Linked DNA regions of Homo sapiens: region 1 is linked to region 2. Evidence: fine-mapped expression QTL. A gene starts in region 2. The other region holds a variant in brackets. All regions are shown on one strand. Distances are between the middles of the regions.

Evidence for each region.
Region 1: its variant is fine-mapped to the expression of DGCR2 in whole blood (TOPMed, PIP 0.97).

Annotation. Positions count from the first base shown.
Region 1 is chr22:19,033,864-19,036,758 of GRCh38, forward strand. It overlaps DGCR2 (DiGeorge syndrome critical region gene 2), which reads right to left. Exons shown (of 10, transcript NM_005137.3): 10 at 2,423-2,895. It also overlaps the pseudogene CA15P1. Among named protein-coding and RNA genes, the nearest start is that of FAM246C, 5.8 kb to the left of the region's middle. RefSeq lists a silencer at 2,156-2,325 and an enhancer at 2,809-2,895. The variant T/C (reference allele first, on the strand shown) is at 1,227.
Region 2 is chr22:19,120,728-19,123,622 of GRCh38, forward strand. DGCR2 (DiGeorge syndrome critical region gene 2) reads right to left here and starts at 1,685. Exons shown (of 10, transcript NM_005137.3): 1 at 1,401-1,685. The coding sequence starts at 1,479. RefSeq lists an enhancer at 1,044-1,545 and silencers at 1,330-1,449, 1,570-2,009.

The sequences.
Region 1 (2,895 bases), 87 kb before region 2:
CTAGGGTAGAGTTCCGCCGGACCCTGTGAAAGTCAATGTTGATGAGGGACTGGCCTGGGCCCCCACAGGCAGGGGGCCAGCTTCTTCCAGTGGGTGGGGACTGCTGGAACAAGGACTGGGGCCTTTGGGGTGGGGGGGGGGTCAGGGAGGCAGCCTGGGGGTGCAGCAGAGAGTGGCCCCCATACACCCAGAGGATAGCCCAGCCTCAGGAAACCTAGCTCCCTGCTTCCCCCACACCTGAACAGGTCACAGCACCCCCCTTCTCTTGTACCCTGCATCTGACCTATCCATCTAGTCTCCCAGTTGGCTGCCCCATGGTGAGATGAAGGTGGAAGGGTCTCCGGCACACAGTTGCACACCCACACTGGGACCTCTATCACCTGCACACACTTGGGCTGGCCACAGTAACGGGCACACCAGCCTTGACTGACTCGGGACCGGCAATCACAGCAGGCCCAGACTCACACACAGGGGGACAGTCACGCACTTGCACCTGATGCCCAGTCAGTCTACTGGGGCAGACGACTACAGACAGAAACCTGCAAAGGCCACAGAGTGCAGGGTGCAGACTGTCTCTTGGCCACTCTTGCACCACTGGCACATGCTCTGGTGGTCCCAGGACACAGACTGATCTGACACAGCCTCACATGACACTCTGTCCTCACCATACTTGAGGTCCTGGGAGTCATAGCACCAGGCACCTATAGAGACAGTGGGCAGGAGGCTGAGCTGAGAGGCCAGTCATCTGGGCCCTCTCCAAGCCCCATCCCATCAGCTGGGGTCCAAGAATGAAGTAGGTCAGGGGTTTAGGCCAGGGGAGGCCAGTGAAGAACCTTCTCTCCTGTCACCCCTACCTCAGTATTTTCTCTCCCCAGTCCCTCCCCACTCCCAGTGGCAAGACCTAAGGGGTGGTGGAGCATGGCAAGAGGGTAGATTGGAGGCCAGACAGGAAGAGTCCTGGTGCTCACTCTCAGAGTCTGCGCCACACCAGCTGCACCGCAAGGCGAGCATGATGCCAGGGGCGTGCGTGGCTCAGTGGCAGCCGCAGCTAGGAAGGACTAGAAAGTGGCTAGACCACGCAGCCAGGATGCTGGCCTGGCTACTACATATTTATTCATTAGCTAGCTGGGCTAGGGGCGTGGCTACTGAGGAGAGGATGGGAGGGGTCGGTGCCCAGGCAGGGCCACCAGGAAGAGCGCGAGCGCTCCAAACTCACCCAGGTGTGC[T/C]CTGGTCCCAGGGCTGCACTGATGCCAGCAACAATCGCTGAGGTTAATCCTGCAGGGGAGGGGTGACCTATTATTATCCCCACTTACAGTCCAGGAAACAGAGGCTGGGGACCAGAATGACACACCAAAGCCACCAGCAAGAAAGGTCAAATAGTGAGGGCACCTTGGACCCCAGTGCCCATGACTTTCGGGGCAAGGATGGGAGGAAGGTGTAGGATGTCTCTTGCCCCACTGTGGGCCCGGAACTGCCACCCCATCCCAAGACCACAGCCTCCCTCCTACCCAGGCCCCCCTGCGGATCCAGGCCAAGACGGAGCCCTGCAGGAGGTCAGAGGAGGGGACTTCTTTGCACCCTGCGCCTCTTTCCAATCGCCAGAGGGCAGGGCCCTACCCACATTGGGGATGGGAAGACAGCCCCTACCCAGAGGCAGGGCTCGGGGCTCTGTCCAGAGTGCTGACAGTGACCTGTGTGCTCGGGACTCAACACCACCACTCCACTCCTGCCCCAGCAGATGGGATAAAAAATGAGGGGCCACATCCTCGAGGCTCCCATCCCTGCCAAGGGACTTACCAGTTCCTTTCCTAACCCTGACTCCTCTCGTGTCCGGCCGCAGGACGTCCCCCCAGTATACACATCTGGAGTGCCCCCAGAGCAGGGCATGCAATCACACTTCCTGGGCCCACTACCCTCTGAGACCTAGAGATGGCACTGCTGGACATGAGTGAAGAGGCCCCAGAGGACCTAGGCTACTTTGTAACATTAGGTGGCTTGGACTGGAGGGAGGGGCTGTTTCCAGCCACCCGGATGATGAGGGGAGCTTAGAGGAAATGGCGCTGACGGCCAGGTTCCAAGCCCTGCCCTACCACCCCGTCCCATGCTAGCTCCCAGATGGTGTCAAGCAGCCTTGCCTTTATGTGGATCCTGTGCACGTCAGCAACACCTGCCAAGGCAGCAGCCGATGCCCCAAGCAGGGCTGGGTGCTGCAGGATAGCTGTAGGCAGCTCAGGGCTGCTGCTCTCCCTGCACACTCCACCTAGGGGCTCCAGGCTCAGCTCTGCCTGGTCCTCAGGGGGTTTGATGGACGCCTGCAAGGGCTGCAAACCCTAGGTGCATTCTGCTGAAAGGTGGGTACCCAGCCTCTTCCACCTTAGCCTGTGGCAGCCGTGGGGGCCACACCAAGGACTAACCATGCCTCTTCCGGAACACAAGTTTATTTGGCATTTGGATGAAATGATTCTCACAGCATCTTAAGAAAAGTTAGTGTCAACCCAACCAAAAACTAAAAACCCTTAATGAAAACATAAAAAAACAGGCATCAAGACAATGTACAGTATCAAATCCCACCTCCGCATGGCAGGTCAGAGGGCACCTGGGCTCTGAGAAACCGTGGCAAGCTGGTCCTAGAGGAGGAGGACCCCTGGAGCACAAGGTTCAGCAAGGGTGACCCCGGGACTTGCTGGTCAGACTGGGGACTGCAGCAGGCCTTGCAAAGGGGGCATTCTGGATGGTGGTGCAAGAACAGATGAGCGAGTCCAGCTCTCCTCATGCTCCCAAGGGCCTCCTGGAGCCACAGTGGCAGCGGTGTTCCAGGCAGCCCTGCCATGTGGACCTTCTGCCTGGCCCAACGTGCCAGTGGCCTGAGTGCTTGTGGAGGCCCATGGGGAAGGG
Region 2 (2,895 bases):
TCTACCTCTCTACACGTACATATATGTTTTCTAAAGAAGTTAATCACAAGAATCCACAAACCCATTGGTTCTGACCTCCAAGAGCCTATATGATACCCTCCTCCACAGGTAGCCCTTTTCCTGGCTTCTGTTCTTACCAAGGCCACCCCACAACTAGTCATCCCGCTGCCCAGAGAGCAGCCAAAAGCAGTGAGCAACTAGCTCTACATGGGGAGACCAGAGAAGCATCACTGAATCTGTCCAGGTTGAGCACCGGTCAGGGCCTTGGCCACCAGGCAGGCACTAGGGAGGAGGCAGACATTCCACATAGATGACACAAGCGCAGAGCCAAGAGGTGCGGTGTATCTGGGCTGGGAGCCTGGCTAGGGCACAGGAGAGGGCCACACACCCCGTGCTCCCACACCCAGGTCATCAGAGAAGATGGCCCTGGCACTTCTGCCTTCATGGGACCTTTCCTCCATTAAGAAATATTAAGAGTCATGCTTTTTCACTGTATTAGTATAAAGATGACTGTATTAATATACATACGAAAACATTTTATTTGACCTAAAAGTTCATTTTTTTTCTGCTGACTTTAAAAAAAAATAAAATAACATTCGAAGGCTACTAAAAGTACCGTGGGCAAGTGATACCAGGATTCCTGTGCCTGATGGATACATCGGCCCTGCATTTAGGGAGTTTGATTTTTTGGTGCAGTTCAAGGGGAGGTACACCGAAATAGGTAGAAAAGGGTCTCCTGGTTGCCACGGTTCTGATTCCCCACCACAGACTTAAGAACACACTAGCTCCGAGGGGAGTTCCAAAGCACGGACTCATTCATCACATACACGCAGCACGGCTAAGGGCCCCGCACAGTGGCGAGGTCTCTGCTCCCGGGACGCTCGCGCCGGCCACACAACGCTAGGCTGACTCCTGGTGCCTCCTCTAGGCCCGGTGGGACCTGAGGACTTCCTTAGCGCAACGTCTCACTGAATGACAGCCACAACCACCGCTGTCCAGGCGAGGAGTTTCCAGGACTGAGAGGCTGGCACTAGGCCACTGCTGGGAGGACGTCTGTGAAACCAGGTGCCCCTGAGAGCCACTGTCCCCAGCCCGACTCCGACGCTGGACTGGCGAGAGGGTGCGCCCGTGGCGTAGCTCCTGGCCGCCGCCGCTCCCGGGAAGGGCCCAGAGGCAACATCCTGGACAGCAGAGCTGCACGAAGTCCGAGGCGCCGCGAGCCCAGGTAAGCTCCAGCAGGCGTCCGCAGAGAGTGCCAGGCGGCCCGCGAGCCAGGCCCCGCCCGCCCCTGCCCCAGGCGCGGCCCCTGCAGGAGGGCGCCGCGGGTGAAAGGAGGTCCCGGGGCGACCCCGGCCCCGCTCGCCGCCCAGCCCCCACACCGCCCCCATCGCGCGGCGCACCTGGCCGCAGCGGCTCGGTGACAGTGAGCACGAGCAGGAAGAGCAGCAGGAAGGCGCCGCTGTCTGCCTTGGGCACCATTTATCCTCCGTTCATCGTCCCCGGGGCGGCTGGAAGGCCGGACCAGGCCGGACTGAGGGTCAGGGGACCGTGCCAAGCGGAGGGTCAGGCGGAGCTGAACCTGGGCGAGGCGCGGAGAGGCGGCGGGAAAGAGCTTCGGCTGGGCCGCGGGCTGGCGCACACTCTCGGCTGCAACCTCAGGCACCGACTCCAGCTGCGCGCAAGATGGCGGCCGTCCTGCTCGGCTCCGCGCCGCGCCGCCCCGCCCCGCCTCCCGCCCGCGACGCAGGCGCGGGCCAATGACCGTCAAGATGGGGGGCGGGGCCAGAGCCAAAGCCCTCCGAAGAGGGTGAGGCCTAAGGTCGCGACGGCGGAGGGCGGGGACCTAAGGGCGGGGACTGAGGGGCGGGCTCTAAGGGAAGGGCGGGACCATACGGAGTGAGGCGTGCCATTGGTTAAGCAGAGAGGCAGGGCCGGGGCCGGGGCCTGAGCGGCGGGGCCACCGAAGGGAGTAGGGTCTCTGGACGCCGGTTAGGGACGGCGGGCGCGGGACGGCAAGGATGGACATCGAAAGGCGCGGGGCATGGGGCGGGGCGCCGAGGGGTCGCGCGGGTGGGGAGCGGAGAGAACGAAGTGGGAACCTGGCTGGGACTCCAAGGGTCTTCACACCTGCAAGCTCAGGTCCCGTGAGCAGCCCAAAAGTGCGCCCCAAAGGGGTCTTTTTAAGGCCGAACCGCTGTGGAGGAGGGAGGGCCTGCCGGTTCTGAGGGTGGGGAAAGAGGAACAGGAATGGCCTAAGAGAGTGTCAGGCAAAGAGAGACCGGGAAGGCCAGGTCCTGGAGACTGCAGCGAAGCCGGCTCCCTGGAGGACCTGCCTACACAATGGCTAGGGGAAGGCCACATGTGCAGGAAAGAAAGCTAGGCAGAGAGGAGGCTCAGCGCCCCTGCGAACAGTGCTCCAAGTGCCACTTCTCCCGTCATCACCAACAGGGTGAACCTTGGAGGGCAGTGTCGGCGAAGAGTCCAACTCTGTAAAATATTTGAAGACATTTCTTCTGAGCCAATATGTGACCAATAGCCTGGGACACAGCCCCAGGAGATCCTGACAAGTGCCCAAGGGGGTAGGGCCACAGCTTGGTTTTATACATTTTAGGGAGACAAGACATCAATCAGCACATGTAAGATATACATTGGTTCAGTCGGAAAAGGCGGGACAACTTGAAAGTGGGGGGTGGAGGGGGGCTTCTAGGTCATGCGGATTGGCAGTTGGTTCAAAGAGTTTATCTAAAGACCTGGAATCAATAAAAGGGACTGTCTACATTAAGGGGTTGTGGAGACCAAGTTTCTTAGGCAAATGAAGCCTCCAGGTATCAGGCTTCACAGAGAAAAGACTGTTAATGTTTCTTATTAAAAAGTGCCAGACTCTGCCGGGTGTGG